Linked DNA regions of Homo sapiens. The protein of the gene in region 5 purifies or fractionates together with the protein of the main gene of each other region. This does not show direct contact. Each region holds a gene or a part of one and is shown on either strand. Other genes may lie near its edges.

Region 1 (3,844 bases), on a different chromosome or scaffold from region 5:
GGTGGCTCACACCTGTAATCCCAGCACTTTGGGACACCGAAGTGGGAGGGTTACTTGAGCTCATGAGTTCAAGACCAGCCTGGGCAACATGGTCTCTACAAAAAAAAAATGCAAAAAAGTGGTCAGGTGTGGTGGTGCACACCTGTCTGTAGCCCAGCTACTTGGAAGGCTGAGGCAGGAGGATTACTTGAGTCTAAGAGGTTGAGGCTGCAGTGAGCCATAATGATGCCACTGCACTCCAGTGTAGGCAACAGAGTAAGACCATGTATCAAAAAGCAAAAAGAGAGCCCAGGAGGGAATCCTGCCCCATCTGAGCAGCCTTCGTGTCCCTAGGGAAGTCCCTAGGCTACTGAGTCCTCAGGAGTAAAGATCCATTGAGGTCTCTGCTGAGGGGCCCAGCATCCTGGGTGGTTCTGATGCCCAGCAAAGTGGGAGACCTATGACTAGAGAGGACACCCGCCCCTCAGGGCTGCAGGGTGTGGGGTGGGGCAGTGGTCCTGGATGGCTATTTGGTTGCGGCTCCCAGTGTGACCCCCATGGTACTGACCCCTGTGCTAACATCCCCTCTGCACAGCTTCTGGAAGGAGCACCACTTCGAGGCCATTGCGTTGGTGGAGAAGGCCCTGCAGGCCGCATATGGCGCCAGCGCCCCCAGTGTGACCTCGGCTGCCCTCCGGTGGATGTACCACCACTCACAGCTGCAGGTAACCAGCGACCCTGGGTGCTCAGCTTCTTCCCTTCCAGGGGGACCAGCGTCACCTTTAGGTGAAGCCCAAAGCATTTGATTTCTGAATTCCTCTGAAATTTTTCTTTCTTCCAATTCTCATAAGCACTCTTCCCACTGGTCTTTGATGGTATCTGAGTGGAGGCTTTGTAGTGAGGGATTTTCATTACAGGGATTTTCTTATTCCTTAGGCTTTCTGAAGTATGATTATCCCAGTGTTATTGATGAGGAAACCGAGGTTCACCCAGCTATTAAAGTGGCAGACATTTTAACACAGGTTTAACTAAGACCCACCCATCTCACCCTTTTGGTTTCTCTCTCTTGATGCCTCATGTCTTCCTGGTTAAAACTTATTTCCTGATCAGTGGCAGTGACCCACACCTGTAATCCAGCACTTTGGGAGGCCGAGATGGGAGGATTGCTTGATCTCAAGCATTTGAGTCTAGCCTGGGCAAGAAAATGGGACCCTATCTCTACAACAAATCAAAAACATTAGCCAGGTTGTGATGGCTTGCTCCTACGTTCCCAGCTACTCTGGAGGCTGGGATGGGAAGATGGCTTGAGCCTGGGAGGTCAAGGCTGCAGTGAGCTGAGATTACACCACTGCACCTTAGCCTGGGTGACAAAGCAAGACCCTGTCTAAAAAAAACAAGCAAACAACAATGAAAATAACAGCAACAAACTTATCTCCAGCTTCAGCCTTCCATGTTGCATAGTGTCTGGCATATATCCGGTAGATGTTCAGTACGTGGGAGCTGTGTTTTACATAAGTTTTCTCATTCCAATGCTGAAAACAGAGAAAAAGATTGAATGTCATGCCTGCATCGACAGCACATATACTAAAATTGGAATGATACAGAGAAGATTAGTATGGCCCCTGCGCAAGGATGACACGCAAATTTGTGAAGTGTTCCATATTTTTCCGCTGCCACCACCACACCGCACTACCTCCCACCCCCTTTTGTGTACAAAACACAAGGAAAAATATTTTTGTTTGAAAAAAAAAAAGATCGAATGTCAAAACAAGCTTAATAACGTAGCCTGCTTTTTAATTTTTTTGAGACAGAGTCTCACTCTGTTACCCAGGCGGTAGAACAGCAGCACACTCATAGCTCACTGCAACCTCAACCTCCTGGGCTCAAGTGATCCTTCTGCCTCAGCCTCCCTAGTAGCTGGGACAAGGCATGCACCATCACCCCTGGCTAATTTTGTTTTGTTGTTTTTTGTAGAGACAGAGTCTCTCTCTGTTGCCCAGGCTGGTCTTGAACACTTTGGCTCAAGTGTTCTTCCCACCTTGACCTCCCAAAGTGCTGGGATTGCAGGCATGAGCCTCTGTGCCCAGCCAACTTAGCCATTTTTACACAGCTGCTGGGGGCAGAACTGGGCTGTGAATGTAGTTCTGTGTGGAAGCGTCGTGCGGCAGTAGGGGAAAGGATGCGGGTTTCAAGTCACGTGGGTACAGCTATCCAAGGCACCTTAAGTCCTTTCTGGACATACAAGATATAAATATAAACAGAGACCCCAGATCTCAGCAGGGAGGTGGCTGGGACGGCTGTGAGTGGAGTCGCTGTGCAGCAGAAGAGGGTTGAAGTCTGGCCGTCTCCCTTGCAGGGTGCCCACGGGGACGCGGTCATCCTGGGCATGTCCAGCCTGGAGCAGCTGGAGCAGAACTTGGCAGCAACAGAGGAAGGGCCCCTGGAGCCGGCTGTCGTGGATGCCTTTAATCAAGCCTGGCATTTGGTTGCTCACGAATGTCCCAACTACTTCCGCTAGGCCCATCATGGCTCAGGCTGCCCAAGGCTTTTCTGTCACCTCTTTTGTTCTCTCACACTGACCAGTCTTGGCCTTAAGCTGACTTAGAAGGGTTTTTCTGAATTGTCTAGATCCATGCATTATTTTTCTAGCTTCCTGCCTTGCTCCCTATTCACTTTACACTGTGAAAGGTGGGGGGTGAGTCCCACTTGAGCGCTTCCTGTTGAATAAAGCAGGCACTTGACCTGGCTGTAGCCTAGGTCTTGAGTGAACCCCAAAAACTTGCTTTCTCTGCTGTTAACACTTTGTTTCCCATCCTACCTGGGGACTGAGAAAGGGCAGAACCATGGGCTGGAGTCTTCAGAGGGCAGAGGTAGTAGGAGGGTCACAGAAGCACACTGCCCTCCCAGGGTCTCCTCGGGCCCCTGGTCTGAATACCCACCTGACCTCTCAACATTGAGGTGTCTCTCACTCTTCTACACACGATAGAAAAGAGAGTCATACACCTGCAGTACATTTTCTCTAATTCAGAGTTGCCTCAATACATTCTTAGGAATGAAACAACTGGGACAAAGAAACTACCATTAGAGTCACTACCAAGAAGAAGAACACTTCCCAGGATCTGTGGAACATCTTGAAGCTCTCAATCTTAGCCTCCTCTTGTCTTAACTAAAGCCTCTTGTCTTTTCACCCATTAGGTTCTCAGTCTTGGCTCTGGGCCTCCTGTTCGGCATGGGGACAGACATAGGCAGCCAAGGTCCTCATTTCCCTTGGAAACCCCTACTCCAAACAGGAGGCACCAAGGCTGAGAATAAGAATCCTTGGTTCAGTGGTTGCTGAACCTGCTGCATTCCCAGTGCACCAAAATCCCTCCAGCCATGGGCAGGGCAGCAGGCAGCACTTGGAGCAGCTTCTTGAAGCAATGAAAGAGGCCCAACCTGGAAATTTACTTTTTCATTTATATTTATTATTTGTTCTTGAGACAGGCTCTTGCTCTGTCACCTAGACCGGAGTACAGTGGCATGATCACTGCTCACAGCAATTTTGACCTCCGGGGCTCAAGGGATCCTCCCACCTCAGCCTCCCGAGAAGTTTTTATTTTTATTTTTTTTGTGGAGTGGAGATCTCCCTATGTTGTCACCGTCTTTTCTGTTTACCCGTAACAAAACAGATGCTCACCCATGTGGAATGGTGTATCAGTTATCTTTGCACAACAAACCACACTAATAAGTTGCTTGAAAAGATAAAATCCAAGGCTGGCACAGTGGCTCATGGCTATAATCCCAGCACGTTGAGAGCCCAAAGCAGGCAGATCACTTGAGCTCAGGAGTTTGAGACCAGCCTGGGCAACATGGTGAAACCCTGTCT
Region 2 (4,504 bases), on a different chromosome or scaffold from region 5:
CACACCGCAAAGCCAGCCATGGGAGCCACTCAAACATTTTGCCACTGACTTGCTTTTCAACATCAATGGAACTGTTTTCAAGTAAATCTGAGGTAAATTCATTTGCCCTTAAAGCCCTCTACGGTGATATAATATAAACAGTTATTTTTATTACCTATAAAGTGCCTTGAACAACTCAGATAACTGTCACAAATCACGATGTTAAACAACAAAGTATGAGAATATTTCTTTCGTGTAAAATGCAGAATTGAATGAGATGAACATTTATTTAACTGTTAAACGGTGATAATACCCATTAACTAAGAAAATTATCAATCCCATACACAGACAGCCAACACCCAATACTCCTAATACTGTGTCTTTCTAGTTTGGACAAGTGTCTTTCTATTCTGGAAATGTTCTACGATGCTGTTAGAGCAAGTAATATTTTGGGTTAAAAATGCCTTCCCATGGAAGGTGGACTCCTGATAATGCAGTGGGTGAGAAAAGACTCTAAGGACTATGGCTGTAAAACAGAAATACACCCAAGTCCATGATGGCTTGTCCACTTGCCTGTTGCTTTTTCAGCAGGATATTGACACTGGTCAGGTCTTTGCCATAGTCATCAGACTGAATCTGACTCTCCAGGCCGTGCAGCCATTTGTCTAGATCTGCACAGCTCTGGGTGAAAAGTTCGGCCTTGTTTGCATCAAAGAGCCGCTGGGCCTTTGTCTGGGTAGTGGATTCAAGGACTTCCCACATTTTATGTAAACCAGTGAGTTTCTCCTTCACCACAGCTTCCGTCTCAGGCTTTTCTGAAATGAGCTGCATTCCTTCCTGGAAAACAAAACCAACATGGTTGTAAATAAACAAGTTTGCTACAGAAAAAATGTCACTGTGAAAAACAAACCTAGGACATTTGATCTGTGATTTAACCATTCACTCAATACACACAGTCTTTCCACATGAAGTTACTGCTCAATAAAATCAACAACGACCCCTAGGTTGTGTACATTACAAGGGTTTCATGGGAATTAAGCAATAAATGTTACATGCTGAAATAGTCTCAACTGGGGCAACGGAATACTGAATGCTAATAACGTGACTTTATCTCCTCCATTCCATGACCAAAGATGATATACAACACATTATTATTATTATTATTATTATTATTATTGTTATTATATTGAGACAGAGTCTCGTTCTATCACCCAGGCTGAAGTACAGTGGCGTGATCTCAGCTCACTGCAACCTCTGCCTCCTGGGCTCGTGCCTCAGCCTCCCCAATAGCTGCGATTACAGGCACATACCACCAGGCCTGGCTATTTTTGTATGCTTCATAGAGATGGGGTTTCACCATGTTGGCCAAGCTGGTCTGAAACTCCTGGCCTCCAGTGATCCATCTGCCTTGGCCTCCCAAAGTGCTGGGATTACAGGCATGAGCCACCGTGCCCTGCCAACACATTATTTTAACCGTGAAGAATCTGAAACACTATAAAAAGTCTAAAAGGAGAGAAGTCGGGGGGAAGGGGGGGACTCCATATTCATCTTCAGTTATGCTGCCCAGAATCTCTCTGTGCAAGAATAACACATCATAGTAATTATTATAGCGCCTGGTATACAGTAGTCTCATAGGAAAAAGCAATTTTAAAAAATATGTATATATTTAAAATTATGTGCAATCTGTCACAGTACAACACAAATAATATGATCAAGACAGTGGAATCCCTGCATGAGAGCTCACAGTCCATCAGCAACAGCAGATGAGAGGCACAACAGAAACTAAATGCCTAGTATTCGTTCTACGATAAATCAAGCATTTTCTACTAACTGGTTGGGTTTCTGCTTTTTTCCCTTTTGATGGGTTGAAGTCAGGAACCCGTACGTGCAAAGGGAGCTATTACTGGCTGTGTAACTTACGTAAATGTACAGATAAGATCAGATATGCTGGAAAATGTGCTAAATAAAAAGGAGTTTATTACTACCCTGTTTGTTTTCTCACCATGGCCACATCAAATGTTTTAACTCACCTTCTCGATTTTGTCAAGCCATTCTTTGTTGGATGCAAGTTCTGCCATAAATGCTTGATGCTTCAACCATTTACTGTGCAGATTTCTGGCTTCATCGTAAGACATGTCCTGGGCTGTGAGCATCTTCTCATTGATCCAGAGAGACAGCTACAGAAAGATCAGAAGGATTCAGAGATTGTGATCCTAGACATCAGCCTTTTTTCCGCCTGGAAAGGGTTGTGTTTATGTCATATTATGCATACTACACACGTTTCCATGGTGACAGACAACCAAATATTTAACTTCACAACTCTGACCCGTCATGACAGGTGTCCATTAGATGGAGCTTGTACCTGAGCTCTGCTCCAAACTATATCTAACATTCATTCCAGAAGTACAAAAGCTCTATAAGCCAGTTTTCAAACTGTTTGGCACTCATAACTGGCTTTCCCCACAAAAGGCCCGTGTTTAAAATTCTACCCTAACCACTCCAAGACATGACTCTTTTTCTCTTCCAAATACCTGTGTCAGCTATACCATGTTAATCATGATTGACTTTTACTCCATTTGGCAATCCTTCTTACTCTCTTAGTTCTTTTTATTAAAAAAAAAAAAAAAAAACTACTTATTTATTACCTCCCCCTTTTTGTGGGTGCATCGAAGGGAATGCAAAAAGGCATAAATAACTTGCTCACTGTAGGGCTAAGGCAACAATCATGCCCTTTCAATGTTTCCTTCAAGTTTGAGTCACCTTCACCTCTTTTTCTATAGCCTCTAGTTCTCTAAAGAACCTTTCATTCACACCAAGAACACTTCACAGGACTTGATTTTGAGACCCAACATGTCTGCTTGGATCTGAACTCTAGAGAGCCGCACAAAGGCTGCTGGCCGCTGACAGACCTGAGAAAGGAGCTCTCTTACCGGGGTCAGCCAAACGCCAGGCCCAGACCCACTTTTGCTGGCTTCCATCCCGAATCGGCCCTGGCTCATTACTGCCTGCCTGTAAGGGCCATGCCAGAGTCCTGATTCCCGCCCCATTTGCTTTGCTAACCTAGGAAGAGCTTTTTGTTTGCCCAGGCTGAAGATACACAAAAGAATGCAGAGCCAGCCTGGAATCAGAAGTAACCAACTGAAGGGACCATGTCCCTTCTCCTGAGTGACCGTGAGAAGCCCACTTTTACACCAGTTATTGTCACAACAAATTGGCACCTTAAATCCTTCATGGTTCTACCAACAAAGATCTAGAAGTGACACATAAAACCAGTAGAAGTACTTACAGAATTAACACTTCCAAGGCCCTTCCACTCCCACTGTGGGCTGCTGCCAGGAAAGGCTCCCCGAGATTTGTTTTTTGGAAATGATGTCAAGGAGAGCGACGTGGGTCACAGGAGCCCTCTGGCTCTGAAAGTGGGTGAACTCTTGGGCACTGTCCCTATTCTCAGGCTATTCACCACACAGGGAATGGGGCAGGGGGCGGGGGTGGGAGGGGGTTAAAAGCAAAAGGTAGTGAGATTTTTGATTTCACTCTTTGTTGAGGGAAAAACTAGCAAATCTCATAAAGTCCTTTGTCATCAAAGACCATGGATCTATTAGACAATAAAGGCACGCACTTCCTACTTGGAAAAAATTATCTATGTTCCAGTTATCTGGGCAGCTAAAATCTGAAAGACTATGGCTATTCAATCTTAGGGGAAAAGAAGTTAAAGTAAAACTTAATGACAAAATTTTTCCCAGTATTCTGTACATACACACAAAACAGAAGGCATTTATTGATTCAAAGTGCCAAGGACATTCACATATTTTCGCTATTCATAACCACTTACCCAAGAGGGATTAAAAAGAGAGAGAGAGAGAGCGCGCTACATAAAAATCAGAGGCTTATAAACAAATCTGCTCTTTGCTGAACACATCATCCTACAGATAAAGCATCATGCGATACAGCACAATGAAATGGATCTATGGAACTTGCTAGTTCATCAGCACTCTGCAACCAAAGCTACAGTTATTATTTGTGGGCATTTACAAAGGTCATTTAAGAATTTACTCATTCTCTGCAGAAAAGAACACTGTGCAGACTGGAAAAAGATAAGGAAAAAATGCTTTGATCGTTGAATCAAGCTAACAGTAAAGGACTAACTCACATCCCTGTACCAGACACATGTAGATATACTGCCTTCCTGGAAAAATAAAAATCAGTTCCAGAGAATAGGTGGTGTAATGTGAGGACATACAACACAAAAGGAATACCTTTAAAATCATTCATTCGTTTTTCAGGATATCACATTAAAATAACACTACCGGCCAGGCGTGGTGGCCCACACCTGTAATCCCAGCACTTTGGGAGGCCAAGGCGGGTGGGTCACTTGAGGCCAGGAGTTCAAGACCAGCCTGTCCAACAGGGTGAAACCTCGTCTCTACTAAAAATACAAAAACTAGCTGGGTGTGGTGGCGCATGCCTGGAATCCCAGCTACTTGGAAGGCTGAGGTAGGAGACTTGCTTGAACCCGGGAGGTGGG
Region 3 (4,504 bases), on a different chromosome or scaffold from region 5:
CTGCAGCATGGCAGCCCTGGCAAAGGACACTGCCTGTACTGGCGGAGAGGCCCCGGGCAGAAAAGGCTTCAGAAGTCAGAGTCTGGGGGATGTCCTGCCCCTCCCTTGCCTCTACAGTACAGGCCCCCCAAACTGGAACCACAAGAATTCCTTAGGGAGTTGCTTAAACACAGACAGAACCAGATACCTCTTCTAACAAGCACCCCAGAGTCACAGGGCAGCCACGTGGGGCAATGGGGCCTCCCCCAGCTCCCGACTCCATCATGGCTGCTTTGTGCCTGTCCCCAGGAGGTGCCAGGCCCCCCGAGGGCCAGGACTCAGCTGCAGAGGCCAGAAGCGCACACATATGCACACGTGCACATACACACACACACACACTCACACACACCAGCGATGACCCAACCCCAGATACTCCCAGGGATAGCAGGGAAGGCAGGGGAGGAAAAGCACACCCCTGGGCAGCACCATAGCAACAGACCAGCCAATCAGCAGGCACTGCCGCACAGCGGCACTTGCCAAACCTTGCCTGGCGGAGAGCTGAGGGCGGGGCGAGGACAGGAGCTGCGAGGGGAAGGGGCACGAGGGGCGGGGCCGTCCCAGAGGCTCTGCCCCAGGCTGACCCCAAGCTTGCTGTCCCCAACCAGAGTCCTCACAGGACGCAGGCCAGGAAGGGTGCCAGCTCTCCAGCTGTCTCCTCATTCGCCCAAAATACCTGCCTCCCTTCCTCTCAGACCCCTCCAGGAGCTGCAGCCCACTCTGAAGATGCTCAGGCCGGTGCAGGTGCTGCAGACACCCCCTCACAGCCTGTCCGGTGGCAGACAGGGTGCGAAGGTTCACGGCTAGGCAACCTCCCGCCAGGTCGGGCAGTGAGAGCCCAAGCCAAGGGGGACAGGCAGGGGCTGGCCTGTGTCTTCCTGGTCTGAGTCCACAGGCCTGGAGGAGGAGACAGATGGGGGCCCCAATACCCAGAGGCCTAACACAGACGGAAGCAGCACCAGGAGGCAGTCAGAGGCCTCCCCACCAGGTCCCAGGCCCAGCATCCCCACCAGGTACCAGGCCCAGCGTCCCCACCAGGTCCCAGGCCCAGCAGCCACCGGGGCACTGCCCTTGTCCAGGACCACGGCCGGCCAGGCCCATGCTCAGCGTTCCATGCTATCCCAAGGACCCCCGCTGCATGGGACTGGGGACACCCAGCAGGCACTCCTGTCCTGGAAATCCAGGTGAGGACCTCGGAAATGACGCCTGCTTGAGAATTTCCATCAGCACATCTGCCCAACCCCCCGTCCCAGAGTCACGTCCTGCAGGCATCACCGGGACGAGCCGGCAGCTCCTGTCAGGGAACCTGGGGGCACAAAGGCAGAGCCCCTTCTTAGGACCAACAAAAAGGCCTGGACAACCACACATCAAGATGACTGAGGGTCCTTGGTGCCACCAGACCAAAAACCACAGCGAACAAGAAGCAACACAGAGGATGTCTCCAGCAACACAGCACATGCCTCCAGTAAGCGGGAGCCTCCCTGCAGGCCCATGTTCCGCCCACCCTGTCCCTCCAAGGGCCAGGGCCCAGAAACGCCTGGTAGTGGGTCATGCGGGACCACCTGGCTCAGTCTCTGCCAGGGGAGCGCCGCCCTAAATACAAGAGCAGCTTCAGGGTCCTCAGTCCTGGCACACTGAGCACTCAGCAAACGTGAGTGCAGAAAGCAGCCCACAGGACCGCCGATGCCTTCTGAGTGCTCCGGGGCCACCTCACCTGAGGCTTGAGCCCCAACTGAGGCAGGAAACAGAGGGAACCCTGATCCCACAGAAGCACAGACCGCGCCGACTGCACAGATGCCACCCTCAGGTCACAGAAACTGTAAGGGCAGCCAACGGGGGTGCACCCTGCCACTGTCTCTAGGACCCCGTGATGAGCCCCAGAAGCCCTTGACATACCCGAGGGGCAGCCACGTGGGTGGAGAAGCACCCCCGGCCCTCACAGGCTGTGGCCACGTGCAGTCACAGGGCAAGCTGCCCCGGCCGGCTCCTGTCACTCACATCCCGTCTCCAGAAGAGGCCCCAAGGCATCCCGTGTTGGACCCACAGGACTCAGCCTGGAGTCACACTCAGGGCCATAATTTTCCGCAGCAAGGTCAGCACAGGAAAAAGACACACGGGGCAGGGTCGCGGGAGGCCAGACACGGCTTCCAGGACACCCTCCCAAGATGGTATGAGGGCCGGTCACTGGAGCACCTGCTGCTGGGCAAGCAACAAAGTCCCCGAAGAGAAAGCCGGTGTTCAGCAAAACCCCTACTGTTTGCACCAGCAGGTTAGGTGCAGGGAGACCCTCTCATCAGGAAATGGAGGGAGCCTTCCCAAAATCCAAGGCCCCAGGCACCAGCCAGAGGCAGTCTTGCCGGCTGGCTGTCTCAGACCACTGTGTGAGCTCTTCCACACAGAAGTCTAACATGGGTGGCCCCGAGTCAGAAGACAGGGCCCAGGTACATGGCCGCACTGGCCGCCCCACCGGGCAAGCACAACCAGGCTGTGACACCACTGAGCTCCACCCTGAGAGGCTGCACACACTCCAACCCGACCCTGGTCCCACCCAGCTGCTTGTACCTTCTACGTTGTTGTAGAAATGACAGGAGCGACTTGCCACCTTCTTACGGCACAAGTGGATCTGTGGGAGGAAGGGCAGAGTGCGCAGCTGAAGCACGGCCAAGAAAGGACCGAAGCCAGTCCCCACCCCCACCAGGTCCTCCCCTGCAGTCCCCCAGTGAACTTCAAACCCTAGCCCAGCGGGAGCGCAGCCTGGGGCTCTGGACACCCAGCAGCACTCGCCTGTCGGACACTGAGCCGGAGCGGGAGCCCAGGAGCCTACCTGTAGATGGTTACTCTCTTGTTTCTTCACCTCAGGATGGATGCACAGCTGCTCCCGGGAGCCCAGCACACACACCTTAGGCCTGGTGGGAGAGAGCACCGTGGGTCGAGGAGGAGCTGTCTCCAACACCCACAGCGTGGCCCTGCAGCGTGAGCTGTATGGAGACACGCAGGAGCCTCGGCGGTCAGAGGAAGTGAGCATAACTGAAACGTGGCCCGGGCGTAGGAGGGAGCTAGAAGACGAGCGGGGGTACTGGACAGAGGGAGGAGATTCGACAGCTTCCACAGCACCCTGCCACTGGTCCGGCCACAGGAACCCGACAGAACACCAAGACTCTGCTGGGCTCTGACAAGCAGCAGGGCCTCCTCCTACTTCATGTGCAAAGCTGCACTGGGGGCCAGCCCTGACCTACTGCACAGCTGCTACAACAGCACCTGCGAGGAGCTCAGGACGCCCGCCCAAGGTCAGCACACAGATGCAAAGCTGCTTCCTCACAAGTAATGGGCATTGGAGGCAGCCCAGGCCGCACCCCACCCCTGGGCACCAGCGCTCTGCACACTTCGGGGGAGCGTCTAGAAAGACCACCACCCTCCACCACAGCACAGCATGGGGCTGTGGACTCAGCACCATGCCAAGCTGGTTCTCTTGAGGACCCCGAGACAGGTGTAAACTCGTCTGACCCACCGGTAGGAGGTGTTCCGAAGCTCGTTGATGACCTGTGTGAGTTGCGAGTGGGTCCTGGAGGCGTAAATAATCTTTGGGATGTCCGTGTAGCAAGCTGACCAGACACAAGCAAGCACAGAAGTCACGGTTCTCAGACAACGTTCTCACGTATCAAAGGCAGGTGGCATTCGGCTAACTCGGCCCTGCAGACAGCCAAGAATCTGACACCCCAGATACTGGTTTATCAAAAATGGGTGAAGTGGGCATCTGCCGTGCCCTAATTCAGCAAAAAAGCCCAACCCTAGGTTTACACCCACGATGGCGAGAAATTATACAGCAGCTAAAAAATTCTCCTTGAGTTCTGCTTGAGAGACGGCAGGAGTCCCCATGGGCCCACCCCACCCTCAGCGCCATCCCTTGCCAACCATCCCCACAGGAGGCCAGGAGAGGCCTGGGAACTAGGGTCACCTATGGGGTCTCCAGCAGCAGCAGCAGCGTTGCCCCAGGATGACAAGGCCCGATCCGGGAAAAGCTCTCCTTGCGCCCTCTCGGCAATCTTGCGGGCAGAGATGCCGTCTCGGAGGTGTTCTCGCCAGGCCAGCGTGGTGCACAGCAGGCACAGCGTCTTCCCTGTACCCGTAGGGCTCTCCAGGATGCCATTCACCTTCTGAACGGAGTTCGGAGCAAGGGTTACGGGGAAGCCAGGAAGAGGCGAGGCCACACAAGCTGCCCTGAGACAAGCTTCGGCAGCCAGCGGGCAGCTCTTTGCAGATGCAGAGGCCACTGCCAGGTGGCGAGAGCCCTGTGGGACCGCGGAGAAGTCCACAGGCAAGTCCCACTCTTGCCCTAAAGGGCGTGAAGCAACTCAGCCGCCATTAGCAAACGATTTGCAGAACGTTACCCAAAACACGACACTATTTTTCAGCTTAAATAGTAAGATGACTAATTAGGTGTCAAGTCTCAAAATAGGAAACTGTTCTG
Region 4 (4,504 bases), on a different chromosome or scaffold from region 5:
GCAGATAAAAATACTTTACATTTAAAAAACACAATTTCTTTTCAATGCAACTAAGGTCATCAGTTATAAATACCTAATTCTTAAGCAGGCTGGTTAAAAATACTGTATTTGTTTACATGATGTTTTGTGACTGCCTTTATTCTCTATAGACATATTTTTCTCAGTAAGATTATTAACTTCTTGGGGAAGAAACTACTGTGTCTCTTTCTTTTGTATTATGTGTGAGTGCTTATTAAACTAATTTTTTTTACATTTGTCATTCATATTTTAAAAATGTAATATACAGTATATTATACCAACATAGTATGCATTTACAAGCAATTTAATCATAAAATATAATTTCACAAAATGATTTGTTTCTTGGTTATTACTTTAGCAAAATTGTTAGAAGTCATATACAGAAGTCAAAATATAGACTTTTTTTTAGAACATAATAACCACCAACTCTTACATAATGCCTTACAATTTTTTTCCTCAGAGCATTTATTTATTTTTCATTAATGTTCACTACAACTCTGCTAAACAGGTATTTACAACCCCAGATAATGAGATGAAAGACAAGACTACCATAAGATGAATGACTGAAAACTGGACTCAACTTGTAATTATGGAACAATTTCCACTACACCAGGGAATATTAACCTACGGTTCAAGAACCCTGCAAAATCTGCCGTTTGTATGCTCAGGGTTCTGCAGAGTACAGGACCCTTGTAAGGATGATAATCATTTGTCTGGTGTGGACTAATCCTTTTGCCCCCCAAAATTTGAATGTTTTCATTGTTATATTTTTCCAGCTCAAAAAATCGGAATGAGCCTATGTTCTTTATCACTAGCTCACATAATGGCACCAGTATTTAATTCATCACCTTCCCTGTCAAGTCTACAGCCTCACCTTCCTCCTCTATTTCTATTAATGTATCCCTACTTTTCTGGTTACCCAAGTTTGAAACCCCTGGCTCAGGTCATCGGTGCATCTGCTTTACCCCAACATTTAACAATTACAAGTCCTACAGATTCTATCTCTCTTGGAATCCATGCCTTCTCTCATTTCCAGTCATACAACTGCACTTGAATTATTTCAACAGCTTCCTCCTCTCCATTCCTGACTCCCCTCAAGGCATGTGGAACGCTAGTCTAGTGTCACCAGACACTAAATGCAGCATTGCCGCACTTAAAAATGACGAAAACAAAAACTCGACTTATTGCCTACGCCAAAAAGGAGCCCAAACTTTCGTGTTTACTGTTTAAAGCTCTTCATGAAATAAACTGTACTTACATTTCCAATCCTGTATTTTATGATAATCCAGCCAACACATATAAGTTGTTATATGTACTTGCCTTACACTTTCTTACCTCCACACTTTACTCAATCTGTTTCTTTTAACTACAGTTGTCTCCTAACTACAAATATTAATTAGCTCCTGGAGGTAAAGCATGTATCTTATTCATAACTGTCACATAGTGTGTCTTGTACATAGCAGGCTCTCAAAAATTTATTTACAGACCCCTTTTAAAACTTACCTTTGAAATCAGTTGTTTGAATTCTGTAACTGTCTGATTTAAGTAAGCACGAACAGTTATAGGAGCAGCTACAGATTCTGCCTTTAGATCAACAACATGAACTTTCACCATCACTTCTGTCACATTTGAAGACATAAACACAGAATTGGAGGTTATTTTTTAATGTATTTCACATGAGTAATGCATTCTTAATGTGTTTCTAACAGGTGACAAATCCAAACTTCCAAGTACAGATGAAAACAACACTGAATAAATATAAATCACCAGTTACTGCAAAACAAATATTAAAGGTGACACAGCACTCCTGCTTGCTTTTGAACAAACCCCTTATTAAGCCACCTTGTTCATCATCAAAGACTTATCCTCAAAATAATATTTCCTATATCCCAAGGAAAATTCCACACAAAAACTGTTCTGATTATGCCTTTGTTTTCTCACTTAAATCTTTTATATTGAAATTTAATCCCATTCTCTTCTGTTTTCAGAAGGTTATGTTTACAATTAAACTCTTAATCACTTGAAAAATAAATGATCTTCAAACATTGTACTTAATACACAGTTATTCTGTATCTGTTTTAACCTCATGTTTTATGTCAATCCTCAGTTTTTTCCCTACGTTGTTAATCTAAATTTGACAAAATATTCTGCTAAGATCTTGATTATTAATGAATAAAGACTACTTTATAAGTCTTACAATCCACACTTGCATTTAGAGTTCTCTTTCAAATAAGTGGTATTACTGCTGACTCATGTTATATCCTAATCATTCTTTTTCTTGTCTAGCAAAAAAAAAAAAAAAGCAAGGAAATGTCCTTAAGGGACTCTTTATAGATAGGGTAGAGTCTTAGAAGTCGAAGTAGACATCATAAGGTTTCCAGAAATAAAATTTTCCCACTTAAGAGCCGTAGACTCCTTGAAAGAATACTACATCTAACCTACTCTGTAAACAGAGGCCTTCATTTAAAAAGGAGATATACAGGATCCACAGAAGAACATTATTGTAAAAGGGCAGAATAAAGTTTTGTAAGTTCAACTTTTAGGGAAAAAACACAGAGAACCTAATTCTCACTAACCACTGATGCAAAGGAGTTAGGGCCAAGACAAAACAGTATGGATTTTGTAAAATTATATAAACATTCTGCTTTTCTTCTATTTGTTACAATTTACATATGGTAATTATAGAAAACTCTGGACAAAAACAGACCATGTAACTGTCTATAGGGAAACTGTCTCTGGGAAAACTAGGGGCATGATATTTTGGTTTTCCTAAGCAGTCTCAAAGAAAAAAAAATAACAAACTCAATGTGCTGAGTGAATGTGATAGATTTAATGAAGAAAGAAAAGATGAAGTCCCTGGGACCTGTAGAAATAGAGAGGATGACGAAAAATTGTAAATGCTGACAGTGATGGGATAATGAATCCACCCTTCCAAAGAAGACCTGAAAAACAGCCTCTACTTCTGAGACTTTATGGGAATATACTTTTTTGGACCAAGGTCTTCTCCATAAAGAGAAAGAAAGAGAAAGAGAGATCTTCCTAAGAGAGCAATTGATAACTTTAGGGATTGACAGCATCCAGAATGATTCAGTACCGCCCACTGGAGAAGAAAAAACCCACTGAAGACCGTAAGCTAGAAGCTTTGTTGTTTTTTGTTGTTTTTAAAATTATGTACACAACTCTTTGCAAGTAATCTAGAACTTAATTCCAAGCTGTTGCTGAGTACTTCTCAACCTGTCAAAATTATTCTACATTTTAAGACCATATACAAAATTTAAATTATGTTCATTTCTACAATAAAAAAAAAAACTTTCTCATGAAAATTCTAAGTACAGAACAACTAAAAATAGTGTAAAATTGCTCACCTCCAGGTTTATAAGATTGGAAAACCTGATCAGGCTTTCTCGTCTCCAACAGCAGATCAAACATATATGTTGACTTGACGCCACCTAGTAGAAGCCCCATTGGTGTATCTTCTTCTCCTTCATATGACCGTTCTAGATAATCATGAAACTCATCATATTTAACAAGGCGACAGCAATCCAGGGGTATTACCTCTTCTAAATCCATCATCTAAAAGAAAGTAATCCCCCAGAAAGAAAAAATATATATACATATATATTTATATATATACATATATAAATACACAGTGTTTTAGTCTGTTGGGGAATAACATTACAATAGGCCCTAACAAAATCCACACATTTATGATTTGCATCAAAGACATCAAAGTTACAGGCACAACTTAAATGTTATTTTTAAATAATTATGTTTCATTATCCCTCCAATCATATAAAGCATGTACTAAATACATTTTTTATTTTTTAAAAAGTTAACATCATAAACTTTAGGTGTAGAAACAAAATCAATGTATTGTAACTATTGTTCATAATCAACTAATCTGGAAACACAGAGGAAAACAACCAAACAGCCAACTAGAATATGCACCTTTTGTTTTCTTAATCCAATCTGGAGTAGAATTGATAATTCATGTAACTAGTAACAATCTAAGTACAGGAGGACAGCATGTCTCATAAAGCCATCACAAAGGGTTTGGCTTCTACGATATCCCCTTTCAATATTAGCCTCCAGAATACTTAAAGCTCATGGTATAGGAATTTCTATCATAACATTTCCTTATAGCTTATGTCACCAATAGATGACATACCCTGGTTGCAACAACTCTCTTGATAGGAAATAAGCCTCCTAGAGAAACACAGTAGGATTGCTTAGAAGTATTCAATGTTCATTTAAGGTTGTGATTATGAGTTTCAAGAAGGACTTGTAAGCCTCAGCGTATCCCCATTGATCTCTACTCCTCCCCAACCCCCATCCCCAACAATGAAGCTCTATTTTTGGCATATAAGATTGACTTATTTCTCTTTTCTGTTTGTTTGTTTCTTTTTATTTGCGAACTTTTACTTCCTATTTTCAAGACTAATGCTTGCAGTCCACCATTATATTTAAAGAATTTTTACCAAAATGA
Region 5 (4,504 bases):
CAATATTTAAATCTATAATACAAACTAGGAAATCTATTATGTAAGTGAAATAGATAACATCCACCTGCACACTTGTCAGTTGAAAAATGTGCAGTAAAACTATGCATGATTGGCTAGTTACAGTATTTCAGTAAATATCAGTATCACTAGTTGTTCATCTGCTGGCACTTGGTAGTAGGAAGTTGGGGAAAAAAAGCCAGAGAAAACCCTAAAATTCAGAACATTTTATTTTTACTGTTCTCTATGAATTAAAAAGCCAATTTTTTCAATTTTAGCAAATTTAGAAAAATTTTCCATTTTTCATTATAGCTTGATGAAAAGAAGTATTCTGTGATCCCTGTTTGAGAACCACTGTTAGTCTAACTTCCTCTCTTTGCGTAAGAAAAATCTGAGGCCTGGCTGGGCACGGTGGCTCAGGCCTGTAATCCCAGCACTTTGGGAGGCTGAGGCAGGTGGATCACGAGGTGAGGAGAACGAGACCAGCCTGGCCAACATGGTGAAACCCCGTCTCTACTAAAATACAGGTGGTGTGTGCCTGTAGTCCCAGCTGCTCAGGAGGCTGAGGCAGGGAAGTCACTTGAACCCGGGAGGCAGAGATTGCAGCGAGCCGAGATCGTGCCACTGCACTCCAGCCTCGTGACAGAGTGAGACTCTGTCTAAAAAAAAAAAAAAGAAAAAAAAGAAAAATCTGAGGCCTAAAAAGGTTTTATTATTTTCCCAAAGCTACAGAGAGTGGCAAAGACAGACACGGAGCTTGGATATTTCAATTCCTAACCCCATTCTCCTTCCACAAGATAACACTGTCTCTACCACTGTAAGGTCATTCACAAAAGCATATTTTTAAATTATTCCTACCTAAATCTTATTTTTTGAAATAGGTCAAAAAGGCACAAGGTTCAAGACCAGTGAGTTATAAAAGAGAGAACGTTCAGTAAAGAAAACTCCCTCCCATTCCTGTCTCTCAGCCACCCCATCCTCCTCCTAAATATAATCAATGCTATAAGCTTCTTGGGATAACTGGTTTCTTAAAAGGTTTCCACTTACCTTCGTTCAACAGGTACAGGCATGGACCAGACTTCTCCCTCAGAAGCTGGAAGGTCATGCTGTGCCGCTTTCAAGGGAGTGCTGTCCAGTTTAAAGCTCTCTAGTGTTTTCATGATATCTTTAACATGTTTAGCTTCCACATTTATTTCCTGCCAAACCTGATTTCAAAGAAGAAGATGGATGTTTAAATTTCTATAATATATCACTGTCAAAATTAAATGAGGGCCATTTACTAGAGATGTTACAAAACTCCATTTTGATATCAGATATCCAGTAAACCACATCAAGATATTCTATCAAAATGTTAATAACAGTTTATTAAATTTATGTTTTCAATTGCAATTTTTTTTTTTTTTTTTTTTGGAGATGGAGTCTCACTCTGTCGCCCAGGCTGGAGTGCAGTGGCGTGATCACTCTCGGCTCATTGCAAGCTCTGCTTCCTGGGTTCAGGCCATTCTCCTGCCTCAGCCTCCCGAGTAGCTGGGACTACAGGCGCCCGCCACCACGCCTGGCTAATTTTGTGTATTTTTAGTAGAGACAGGGTTTCACCATGTTAGCCAGGATGGTCTTGATCTCCTGACCTCGTGATCCACCCGCCTAGGCCTCCCAAAATGCTGGGATTACAGGCGTGAGCCACTGCGCTCGGCCCTCAATTGCAAAATTAATTCTGATAAAATGAATTAAAACATCCAGGATAGGAAACATCCACGCCTGTAATCCCAGCACTTTAGGGAGGCTGAGGTAGATGGATCACTTGAGCTCAGGAGTTTGAGACAAGCCTGGCCAACATGGTAAAAACCCCATCTCTACTAAAAATACAAAAAGTTAGCCAGGCATGGGGGCAGGCACCTACAGGCCCAGCTACCTGGGAGGCTGAGGCAGGGGAATCTCTTGAGCCCAGGAGATGGAGGTTGCAGAAAGCCAAGATCACGCCACTGCACTCCAGCCTGGGCAACATAGCAAGAATCTGTCTCAAAAAAATAAAAAATAAAAAAAAAATCCAGGCTAACTAAATCATACTACTAATTTATATTCTTATTTAAATTGCATAGCCGGGTGTGGTGGCACATGCACGTAATCCCAGCTACTCGGGAGGCTGAGGCAGGAGAATCGCTTGAACCTGGGAGGCGGAGGTTGCGGCAAGCCGGAGATCACACCATTGCACTCCAGCCTGGGCAACAAGAGTGAAACTCCGGCTCAAATAAATAAATAAATAAATAAATTGCATAACAGGCCAGGCGCGGTGGCTCACACCTGTAATCTCAACACTTTGGGAGGCCAAGGAGGGCAGATCACCTGAGGTCAGGCATTCAAGACCAGCCTGGCCAACATGTTGAAACCCCATCTCTATTAAAAATACAAAAATTAGCTGGGTGTGGTGGCGGGCACCTGGAATCTCAGCTACTTGGGAGGCCGAGCCACAACAATCGCTTGAACCCAGGAGGCGGAAGTTGCAGTGAGCCGAGATCGCACCATTGCACTCCTGCCTGGGCAACAGAGCAAGACTCCATCTCAAAAAAATAAAATAAAATAAAATAAAATAAAATAAAATAAAATAAAATAAATTGCATAACAAATTGAAAAGTTAGGCATAACTTTAAAGTTCTACAAGAATAATTAGCTGGGCATGGTGGCCCATGCCTGTAGTCCTGCCTACTTTAGAGGCTGAGGTGAGAGAATTGCTTGAGCCCAAGGGGGAAAAAAAACCATCAAAGCACAACTTGTGAAAGTTTCATTTTTGTCAAACTTTTATTTTTATGTTTTAGAGACAAGGTTTCATTCTGTTGCCCAGGCTGTACTACAGTGGCACGATCATAGCTCACCATAACCTCAAACTCCTGGGTTCAAGCCATCCTCTCACCTCAGCTTCTCAAAGTGCTGGGATTACAGGTGTGAGCCACCATGCCCAGCCCTACTTTGATAATTTTTATTCTGTTTAATTAACTTTTAAAATGCTGATTAATCCCAATTACCCTGATTTGATCATTAGATATTGTATACAGGAATCAAAATATAATGTGTATGCCCAAGATATGTACAACTATTATATATCAGTAAATAATTTCTAAAAATCAATACAACACTGATCAGAATATACTAATTTTATGGCTAATGGGTCACAACCTACAGACTAAAATAGGTCTCAATTCATATGCAACCAAGGTATTTTTTTAAAAGCAGTCTTTTTTTTTTTTTTCAAATATTTTTTAGAGACAGGGTCTCATTCTGTCATCCAGTCTGGAATGCAGTAAAATGGCCCTAGTTTTGAGAGTAAGGCTCCACCTCAAAAATAAAAGAGAAAAGGAATCTTGACGCAATTTAAAAACTAATCTTGGGCAACATAACAATAACCCATCTCTAAAAAAAATATAAGCCAGGCATGTTGGTTTGTGCCTGTGGCCCCAGCTACTCTGGAGGCTGGGTGGGAGGATTGCTTGAGCCTGAGGAGTTAAGGCTGCAGTGAGCCATGATTGCACCACCATACTCCAGCCTGGGGAACAGACCGAGACTCTGCCTCCAAAAAACCCTCAAAAACCTATATATAGTTTTGATTCAACTGTATTATAGTAATGGGTCTTAACTCAGCCTAAAAACTATATATGGTGATGGTTGTACATTATATATGTATTTAATGCCACTGAACTGTATACTTAAAAATGGCCAAGGCCAAGTGCAGTGGCTCACGTCTGTAATCTCAGTACTTTGGGAGGCTGAGGAGGGCAGATCACCTGAGGTCAGGAGTTCCAGACCAGCCTGGCCAACATGGCAAAAACCCCGTCTCTACTAAAAGTACAAAAAAATTATCTGGGTGTGGTGGCACACACCTGTAATTCCAGCTACTCGGGAGGCTGAGGCAGGAGAATCACTTGACCCCAGGAGGCAGAGGTTGCAATGAGCCGAGACTGCGCCACTGCACTACAGCCTGGGCAACAGAGTGAGACTCCGTCTCAAAACAAACAAACAAACAAAAAACAGTAAAGTGTTATGTATATTTTACCACAATAAGAAAATGGTAGGCCAGGCATGGTGGCTCATGCCTGCAATCCCAGCACTTTGGGAGGCCGAGGCAAGCAGATCACCTGAGGTCAGGAGTTTGAGACCAGCTGGCTACATGGTGAAACCCCGTCTCTACTAAAAATACAAAAATTAGCTGGGTGTGGTGGTGGGCTCCTGTAATCCCAGCTACTCGGGAGTCTGAGGCAGAAGAATCACTTGAACCCGGGAGGTGGAGGTTGCAGTGAGCTGAGACCGCGCCATTGCACTCCAGCCTGGGCAACAAGTGAGAAAATCCATCTCAAAAGAAAACAAACCAGAAAATGGTAAAAAATAAAAATAAAAATAAACTATATATATAATATTGAAATGAAATTTAAGATGATAATGTTTTGCTTTATAACTTAAATGATTTAATCTTAAGTACCTTTAAACAAAAGCTTAGACTTAAGTAAAAGTCTTTGGC
Region 6 (4,504 bases), on a different chromosome or scaffold from region 5:
TTATTCTTGCACGAATTGAATATTACCAATCTCTTTAAACCAAGTTATTCCTGTGACTGAGATAACTTCTAGAGTGTGAAGCAACAATTTGCAAAGAATAGGCAGGCACAGGTGTAATGAGGCTATTAACATTCCATAAAAATAATGCAAAGTTGCAAAAGATAATCAATTTTTTAAAATTGTAGGTTCAAGGGCAAAGCCGGAATAGTCAGGAAACAATGAAGTGGTCCTCAAAATCAATATGGATAATATATATTTGAAATAAAACACAATCTCTACATTATATAATGTGACATCCCAGAAAACAACAAAGGGTGAAATATCCAGCCAATAATCCTTTAAACTAATGAAATTACACAAAGAAAAGAAAAGAAAAAGAGAGAGAGAGAGAAAGAGAAAGAGAAAAAGAGAGAGGGAGGGAGGGAAGGAAAGAAGGAAAGAAGGGAAGGGAAGGGAAGGGAATGGGGTGGGGGGAGAGGAGGGGAGGGGAGGAAGAAATAATGAACAAAAGAAATTACATACTTGATTTCTCCTTAGCTGAATTTAGTACCCGAGGCACGTTCTCTCTGACAAATGAGTGGGCCTTCATTACAAAACGAATCTACAAAAGCAGGAGGAAAAAGATGTCTCTTCAAAGAAAGTCTCCTGCAAGTGTCCTTTCCATTAGTCAAATGCATTATAGATAGCCAGTAAAGTCAGAAAATCCTGATAAGTGTATAAACAAATTAAAATAAAACCTTTATTATATAGTTACATGACAAAACAATGAATCTGACATTTCAAAAGTGAAGTTTTTAATTATGAAAATATTTTATAATTTAAATGACTTTTACAAAAAGTATTCAGAAACAAAATCTTGATGCATCAAAAATAATTCAATGTGGCCGGGCGCGGTGGCTTACGCCTGTAATCTCAGCACTTTGGGAGGCCGAGGCAGGCGGATCGTAAGGTCAGGAGTTTGAGACCAGTCTAGCCAATATGGTGAAACCCCATCTCTACTAAAAATACAAAAATTAGCCGGGTGTGGTGGCAGGCGCCTGCAGTCCCAGCCACTTGGGAGGCTGAGGCAGAAGAATCACTTGAACCTGGGAGGCAGGGGTTGCAGTGAGCCGAGATGGTGCCACTGCACTCCAGCCTAGGTGACAGAGCGAGACTCTGTCTCAAAAAAAAAAAAAAAAGTTCAACGTAATTTATTTATCAAAATTCAGAGAACATGGAAGCTACAATGAAACTTAAGAGGTGAGATGATTCTAGTTTAACAATTTTACAGATAATGGCAAAAGAACAATATATGAAAATTTATCCAAGTTAATACAGCTAAAAATAATAGTATCAGTATGTCATCATCATTATTATTATTTTAGCCGAGGACAGCATCGCCTTGGGTAACACTTAAAACCTTACCTGCTCGAATATAATGATGAACCGGGAAGCTGGTGGCAGTGTATATGCTAACACAACATATGTTGGTCCAAAACCTAGAACTCCAATCTGGAAGATCATGAAAAGAAAGCCATGGAAGAGAGAACGGATCAGCGGATGAGAACTCTTGCTATAGCCAGTGGCCCAATGTTGAAACAGAAAATAGGGAACTGAAAATGTAGACAGGAACATGATCCACCAGGTCCAAACAACGGTAGGAAATTTGCCAAAAGCATAAGACAGGAGGCTGAACTCAAGCACCAGCCTGGGGAGAAAAGGTACAGAAAAAGAACATAGAGGTGAATTTTTAATATACACTGAGTTCACAGAATTTAAAAGTTTCAAACACCAAACTTTCAACCTTAGGAAACACCACAACGTTAATACGCTGAAGTCATGGATGTAATAGTTCTGCTAGTTAGAGATCTGCTTCTAACCATCTGCTTTACAATATATATATATATATATATATCAACAATATATGTTCTTTAGAAACAAATTTTCTAAAAGCCCTAAGATAAATACAGTCTTCAAACTTAAGATATCTAAGATAATTGGACTTTGAACTTCTGAAAGATTAGATTCTCACATTAATTTTCTAACTGTAAAATATTCTATGGAAAATATTCAAACAGCAATCGTTCTTATGTACAAAAGATGATTTTTCAGAAGAAATAGGTACAATTTAAAAATATGTTAATATACTATACCATTATCTCCAAACTTAATTTTCAAAAAAAGTACATAATTCAATCCATGATTACCACGCTGTCATTTTTTAAGCTACAATTTGAGTTTTAAAATTTTATTTTGAGATCTGGTCTCCTTTGCATCCAGGCTGGAGTGCAGTGGCACAAACACAGCTCCACTGCAGCCTCAACCTCCCTGGCTCAAGCGATCCTCCTATCTCAGCCTCCTGAGTAGCTGGAACTACAAGTGTCTGCCACCACGCCCAGCTAATTTTTAAATTTTTTGTAGAGATGTTGCCCAGGCTGGTCTCCAACTCCTAAGCTCAAGTGATCCTCCCGCCTCGGCCTCCCAAAGTGCTGAGATTACAGGCACAAGCAACCATGCCTGGCCTATAATTTGACTTTCACATTAAAAAGAAATATCAACTTTTTCAACCTTCAATTCCAATAAGCTACTTGTTTTAAGTAACCATCTTAAATAAAGACAATCAAAAAGTTAATAAGTCATATACAGTTATCCCTCCCTATACATGGGGGGTTGGTTCCAGGAAACTGTGCAGACACCAAAACTTATGCAAATTCGAGGCCCACAGTTGGCCCCGTGGAACCCACAGATATGAAAAATCTGCCATTCTTATATGTGTGTTTTGCATCCTGGAATACTCTAGATCCCAATCAGCCTTTGCTTGCAGATGTAGAACCCATGGATACAGAGTGCTAAACACATTGATTGAAAAAATTCTGTGTATAAATAGACATGCACAGTTCAAACCCGTGCTGTTCGTAGGTCAACTGTGTATAAAGTTCTCCCATTTGGGAAAATTACCTAGAAATTACTGATTATGGTCTATTCAAATAAACCATTTTAAAAATAAAAGTAATGAAACTTCTAATTTTCTCCATCAGTTAAACTTTTCAGGGCAAAGGAATATCACCCTCAAATCTGCTGCTTTAGGATTTCCTGAAGCAATTTAATCAATTTACCCTTTACCAAAATTTAGTGAAAACCTCTAACTTCTCATGCATCAACTAGCCAGCCATCTTTTTTGTTGTCTTACCTTCCTTCATCAATGTAATCTACTACAAGTGTGCTGAGGATAAAGAGAATGAGGAGGGCAATAAACATGTGATATATTGTTCTGATGTGGTCCACTTCAAGCAGTTCACTGTAAATGTAGTTCAAACAAAACAAGTTAATAATGTATATTTAAATTTAAAACACCATAAAATCTTTTCTTAAAGCAGTTAACTTAAAGCAGTTGAGAAGATGCTTAATCCACTCTCCAAAAACATCTCAAAAAAGAATGGTCTACATTCTTTAAAACCTACCAGAAATGGATGTTTTCTAAGTAAACAAAGGCCAGTCACTAAAAACAGGAAACAAACTATTTCAAATGTTAAGAATTTTTTAATCCTATTCATATTCTACTCCCTAAATTTAATATATATTAAGTACTACCTATTTCCAAAATGTTAAAATTGACATGAGTTTCTATAATGTTGATCATGATGATGATGATAACCAATTACTACCCTACACGTCTATAAAACTCAACCATTTACAAAGATTTTACCTTCTCATTGACTTTTGTATTTAAGACTGGTCTAATTTTCTTTTAGAATATAACAATAATATAGATGACTTTTCCTAAATAATCTTTTATATCTGACTAAAACAGGTTTTTAAACTTGTTTTAACTTGTTTTTGGAAAGATAATGCTAATCTTTTAAATGATTTTGAGTAATCTAATATACTACTACTCAATCTCTGGACCAAGGATCTTCACAGTCTAATAAAAACTCATCTAAGCCATAGAAAACATGTTTTGTTTCCTTGGTTAAAAATTTTTTTAATATGTAATTTTGTTTATTTTTCATGTATAAATTCTATCATTAAAATCCTAATTATAATGTTTAAAATAAATTTTCTTTTCCCTTTTATGTGAAAAGCCTGCGTTTTCCCCCAGATGTAAACTTTAAAAGATTAATTCCTTCAAACTACAGTGTAACAGAACACTTAACACTATACATTACATGCTTAGAAAACACTGAACAGCACATTACATGCTTAGAAAACCGGCCTTCTTATCTAGGGGAAGTAGTAAACATCAACTTGACTCACAGAAAGTAACTTTTGATAAGCATAAGATGTCTTTTTAAAGAAAAGTACACTTTTTTTTATTGAGACAGCCTTGCTCTGTCACCCAGGCTGGAGTTGCTGGGTGTTGCACCTGGTGCTCAGGCTGGAGTGCAGGGGCACAATCTCAGCCCATGGCAACCTCCACCCTTCCGGGCTCAAGCGATCCTCCTGTCTCAGACTCTTGAGTAGCTGGGATTACAGGCATGCACCACCAAGCCTGGCTAATTTTTTGTATTTTTTGTAGAGAGAGACT
Region 7 (4,155 bases), on a different chromosome or scaffold from region 5:
GGCCTCCCAAAGTGTTGGGATTGTAGGTGTAAGCCATTGTCCTTGGCCTATTTTCAGTTAATTTTTGTGTATGAGGTAGGGGTCTAACTTTTTTCTTTTTTATGTGAATACCCAGTTTTCCCAGCACGAACTGTTTAAGAAAAAACACATTTGTTTAAGACTATTCTCTCCCCACTGAACAGTCTTAGCACTTTTGTCAAAAACCAATTGACCTTAGATGGATGGGTTTATTTCTTGACTCTTGATTTTATTCCATCACTCTATGTCTATTCTTATACTAATGCCACAGTTTTGATTTGCATTCCCTGATAACTAATAATGTTCAGCTTTTTTTTTTTTCATATGTTAGCTGGTCATTTGTATATCTTCTTTGGAAAAATGTCTATTCCAATCCTTTGCCCATTTTTAAGTTGGGCTGTTAGTCTTTTTGCTAAGACTCTCACATCCAGAATATATAAAGAACACTTACACTCCACAACAAAAAGACTAACAACCCAGAATGAGATGCCACTTCACTCCTACTAGGATGACTATAATCAAAACAAAACAAATGTTGGTGAAGATGTAGAGAAATTGAAACCCTATGCTTGCTGGTGGCAATATAAAATGGTTCAGCTGCTGTGGAAAAGTTTGGTGGATTCTCAAACATTTAAACATAGAATTACCATATGACCCAGCAATTCCACTGTGAGGTATATACCCAAAAGAACTGAAAACATATTTAATGTTCACAGCAGCACTATCCACAATAATGAAATGGTGGAAACAACCCAAATGTCCATTAACTGATGAACAGATAGACAAATCGTGGTATATCCATACAACAGCTTATTCTGCCATAAAAAAAGAATGAAGTACCGATACATGCTACAAGTTGAATAAACCTTGAAAACATTATGCCAAGGGAAACAGAGACATAGGTCACATGTTTTATCATTCCATTTATATAAAATGTCCAGAATAAACAGGCAAATCCAAACAGACAGAAAGTAGATTAGTGGTTGCCAGAGGCTGGTGGAAGGGGAGTGGAAAGTGACCACTTACTTAATGGGTACAGGTTTCCTTTTGGGGTGATGAAAATGTTTTGGAAATATATGAGGTTATGGTTGTACAACACTGTGAATGTACTAAATGTGACTACGCTGTACATCTTAAATTGGTTAATTTTTTTTTTTTTTAAGAGACAGGGTCTCACTCTGTCACCTAGGCTCTGGAGTGCAGCAGCACAATCACAGTTCACTTTAACCTTGAACTCTTGGCCTCCAGTGATCCTTTCACTTCTACCTCCCAAAGTACTAGGATTATAGCCATGAGCCACTGTGCCTGGCTAGTTAAAGTGGTTAATTTTATGTTATGTGAATTTTACATCAGTAATAAAAAAGAAGCCGGAAGAAAACCAGACATCAAAGATGTTAGAAAAAGGGATATATTTACAAACCAAAAAGTCTCCAAATTCCCACTGGAAGGAGGTAGCAAGTATGAGCAGGTCTCTTTAGAAGCCCGTCCTCATTCCTATAGAAACCCCAAGTACTAGCCCATGGGGTCAGCCCTTGCCCTATAGCCCATCCTTGTCACAACCCAAGAAGCAATCCCTCCATTGGCCACACCCTCAGTCCTTTTGCCAGTCATCCTGTGCCCAGGCAGGCATTGGTGAAAAGTACTCAAAGCCTGGCCCTTTATAGCGTAGGGCATGTAGGAACATCACAAGGTCTTGGGGCAAGGGATCCTGTCGCACCAGCCGGCACTCTGCACAGAGTGGGTCTGTCTCTTGATTCATGACATCTGTTTCAACTGCCTTCTCTGATGCCAAGGCTATTGTGTCCAACTCCTGAGGGGCTGCCTCAGCTACTTCCTCCATCTTCTGGGCAGCTGCAGCCAACTCTTCCAGGTCGTCCTTGCCCAACTCTGAGGAGGGGGCCGTAGAGTCTGTGAGTCCTGGGGACAGGTCACCCTCACAGAGATCTAGCACATCCAGGCTCTGTTTGGCCTGGTGCTCTGCTACCAGGTCCCGTAGCAACTCCTCGTTTGTCTTGGGAATGTAGCCGCCCCGGCCTCGAGAAGGACCCCAGGCAACTGAGTTGTAGATGGGGTCGTTGAGAATGGGATGGCCCAAGAACTGAAGGTGGACTCGAATCTGGTGTGTGCGGCCTGTGAGTGGCCGGCACCGTACCACACTGGACTGGCCATTGTAGCTTAGCCTCTGGAACACTGTCTCACAGGGCTTGCCCCGGGGATCTACACGGCACACCCCTACTTTGTAAGACACCACTAAGATGGGTTCTTTACAGGTCACTTCCTCAGTGGGGAACTCCCCTTCCACCCGGCACACGTACTCCTTCTCCAGCTACATAGGAGGGAAGAGGGAGAAAGTCAGTACAAAGCCTAAATTCATGGAGTCCAAACTCTTTGTGGAGTGATAAGGACCAGTGTCAGAAAATTCAAACTCCAGCTCTACCATTCGCCAGTTTTGCGATCTTGGGTACATTACTTAACCTCTAAATCCTACTAACTCATCTAGAAAATGTGAAATTAGAAAAGCATTTACCAGCTGGGTGAGGTGGCTCACGCCTGTAATCCCAGCACTTTGGGAAGCTGAGGTGGGTGGATCACCTGAGGTCGAAAGTTCGAGACCAGCCTGACCAACATGAAGAAACCCCGTCTCTACTAAAAAATACAAAATTAGCCAGGCGTGGTGGCGCATGCCAGTCATCCCAGCTACCTGGGAGGCTGAGGCAGGATAATTGCTTGAACCCAGGAGGCGGAGGTTGCAGTGAGCCAGGATCACACCATTGCACTCCAGACTGGGCAACAAGAGCGAAACTCCATCTCAAAAAAAAAAAAAAAAAAAAAGAAAAGAAAAGAAAAGCATTTACCTCATTGGGCTGTGATAAGCATTCAGTAAGTTAGGCTCTAATGTGCTTGATACTAAGCCTGGTATATAGCATGCACTCAATAAATGTATTATGATTCAGATCCAGAATTACAAGTCTCAGGACAACAATCATTACCATTAAACTCCTCTACCCAAGACTTTTCCAACTACATCTAGAATCTTTTCACCAAGCAGGCTCTCCCCATAATCTTAAAAGCCTTGCTCAGCCTGTCAGCACTTTATTTTCTTATGTTAATTTATTTCTTTGAGACGGAGTCTTGTTCTATAGCTCAGGCTGGAACGCAGTGACATGCTCATGGCTCACTGCAGCCTCAACCTCCCATGGCCAAGTGATCCTCCTATCTCAGCCTCCCAAGTAGCTGGGACTACAGGCATGTGCCACCATGCCAGGGTAAGTTTTTTTTTTTTTTTTTGAGACAGAGTCTCACTCTGTCACCCAGGCTGGAGTGCGGTGGCGCGATTCGGCTCACTGCAAGCTCCACCTCTTGGGTTCACACCATTCTCCTGCCTCAGCCTCCCGAGTAGCTGGGACTATAGGTGCCCGCCACCACGCCCAGCTAATTTTTTGTATTTTTTTTTAGTAGAGACGGGGTTTCACCGTGTTAGCCAGGATGACCTCGATCTCCTGACCTCGTGATCTGCCCGCCTCGGCCTCCCAAAGTGTTGGGATTACAGGCGTGAGCCACTGCGCCTGGCCTTTTTTTTTTTTTTTTGTAGAGATAGGGTCTCCCTATTTTGCCCAGGCTGGTCTCTACCTCCTGGGCTCAAGCTATCCTCCCACCTCAGCCTCCCAAAATGCTGGGATTACAGGTGTGAGCCTGGCCTTGTCAGCATTTTAAAGCTTCAAAATAGCAAACTACTAAGAGAGGCAGTGTATGCCATCTCTAAAGATTTTTTTGGAAACATATGAGATATCCTGCATTTGGCACTTTAGGTGTTGACCTGCCTTAAGGTAGGAAGGTAGGAAGGATGGCCAGATAAATATGAAGGACCACTTCGGAACTCCATGATGCCCTTTTGACACAGAGCATTCGTGAGCCCAAGAAGTGGCCTGTAGGAGACAAAAGCCTGACTCACCTGCCGGTCCCGAACCTGCTCGTGAATTCTCTCAGAGACTGCAGCTGTCTTGGCAAACATAAGCACCCCTGAGGTAAGGCGGTCAAGCCGATGCAAGGGGTGTAGCTCCTTGAGTTGGTGCTCCTTGCCTAGGATGAAGATAACTGTGTTGTGTCGGAAGCGGCCACAGGGGTGAACGGGAATGG

What was found.
Region 1: the proteins of KATNA1 (region 5) and AKR7A2 purify together in Homo sapiens (affinity purification with mass spectrometry; one large-scale study listed by BioGRID and IntAct). This does not show direct contact.
Region 2: the proteins of KATNA1 (region 5) and SPTBN1 purify together in Homo sapiens (affinity purification with mass spectrometry; one large-scale study listed by BioGRID and IntAct). This does not show direct contact.
Region 3: the proteins of KATNA1 (region 5) and RTEL1 purify together in Homo sapiens (affinity purification with mass spectrometry; one large-scale study listed by BioGRID and IntAct). This does not show direct contact.
Region 4: the proteins of KATNA1 (region 5) and USP47 purify together in Homo sapiens (affinity purification with western blotting; one study listed by BioGRID). This does not show direct contact.
Region 6: the proteins of KATNA1 (region 5) and SOAT1 purify together in Homo sapiens (affinity purification with mass spectrometry; one large-scale study listed by BioGRID and IntAct). This does not show direct contact.
Region 7: the proteins of KATNA1 (region 5) and RPUSD2 fractionate together in Homo sapiens (co-fractionation; one large-scale study listed by BioGRID). This does not show direct contact.

Annotation. Positions count from the first base shown.
Region 1 is NC_000001.11:19,302,878-19,306,721, reverse strand, and holds the end of AKR7A2 (aflatoxin B1 aldehyde reductase member 2), read left to right. Parts: intron 1-574; coding exon 575-704; intron 705-1,373; exon of another isoform or gene 1,374-1,511; intron 1,512-2,335; coding exon 2,336-2,497; 3' UTR 2,498-2,757; downstream 2,758-3,844. UniProt on the Homo sapiens protein: Catalyzes the NADPH-dependent reduction of succinic semialdehyde to gamma-hydroxybutyrate. May have an important role in producing the neuromodulator gamma-hydroxybutyrate (GHB). Has broad substrate specificity.
Region 2 is NC_000002.12:54,640,635-54,645,138, reverse strand, and holds part of SPTBN1 (spectrin beta chain, non-erythrocytic 1), read right to left. Parts: intron 2,157-4,504; coding exon 2,010-2,156; intron 817-2,009; coding exon 553-816; intron 1-552. UniProt on the Homo sapiens protein: Fodrin, which seems to be involved in secretion, interacts with calmodulin in a calcium-dependent manner and is thus candidate for the calcium-dependent movement of the cytoskeleton at the membrane.
Region 3 is NC_000020.11:63,660,984-63,665,487, reverse strand, and holds part of RTEL1 (regulator of telomere elongation helicase 1), read right to left. Parts: intron 4,191-4,504; coding exon 3,992-4,190; intron 3,639-3,991; coding exon 3,545-3,638; intron 3,015-3,544; coding exon of another isoform or gene 2,943-3,014; coding exon 2,861-2,942; intron 2,660-2,860; coding exon 2,599-2,659; intron 1-2,598. UniProt on the Homo sapiens protein: A probable ATP-dependent DNA helicase implicated in telomere-length regulation, DNA repair and the maintenance of genomic stability. Acts as an anti-recombinase to counteract toxic recombination and limit crossover during meiosis.
Region 4 is NC_000011.10:11,935,390-11,939,893, reverse strand, and holds part of USP47 (ubiquitin carboxyl-terminal hydrolase 47), read right to left. Parts: intron 3,592-4,504; coding exon 3,384-3,591; intron 1,638-3,383; coding exon 1,522-1,637; intron 1-1,521. UniProt on the Homo sapiens protein: Ubiquitin-specific protease that specifically deubiquitinates monoubiquitinated DNA polymerase beta (POLB), stabilizing POLB thereby playing a role in base-excision repair (BER). Acts as a regulator of cell growth and genome integrity.
Region 5 is NC_000006.12:149,631,715-149,636,218, forward strand, and holds part of KATNA1 (katanin p60 ATPase-containing subunit A1), read right to left. Parts: intron 1,203-4,504; coding exon 1,045-1,202; intron 1-1,044. UniProt on the Homo sapiens protein: Catalytic subunit of a complex which severs microtubules in an ATP-dependent manner. Microtubule severing may promote rapid reorganization of cellular microtubule arrays and the release of microtubules from the centrosome following nucleation.
Region 6 is NC_000001.11:179,338,211-179,342,714, reverse strand, and holds part of SOAT1 (sterol O-acyltransferase 1), read right to left. Parts: intron 3,278-4,504; coding exon 3,170-3,277; intron 1,688-3,169; coding exon 1,405-1,687; intron 706-1,404; exon of another isoform or gene 602-705; coding exon 523-601; intron 1-522.
Region 7 is NC_000015.10:40,571,716-40,575,870, reverse strand, and holds the end of RPUSD2 (pseudouridylate synthase RPUSD2), read right to left. Parts: coding exon 3,971-4,155; intron 2,345-3,970; coding exon 1,610-2,344; 3' UTR 922-1,609; downstream 1-921. UniProt on the Homo sapiens protein: Pseudouridine synthase that catalyzes pseudouridylation of mRNAs.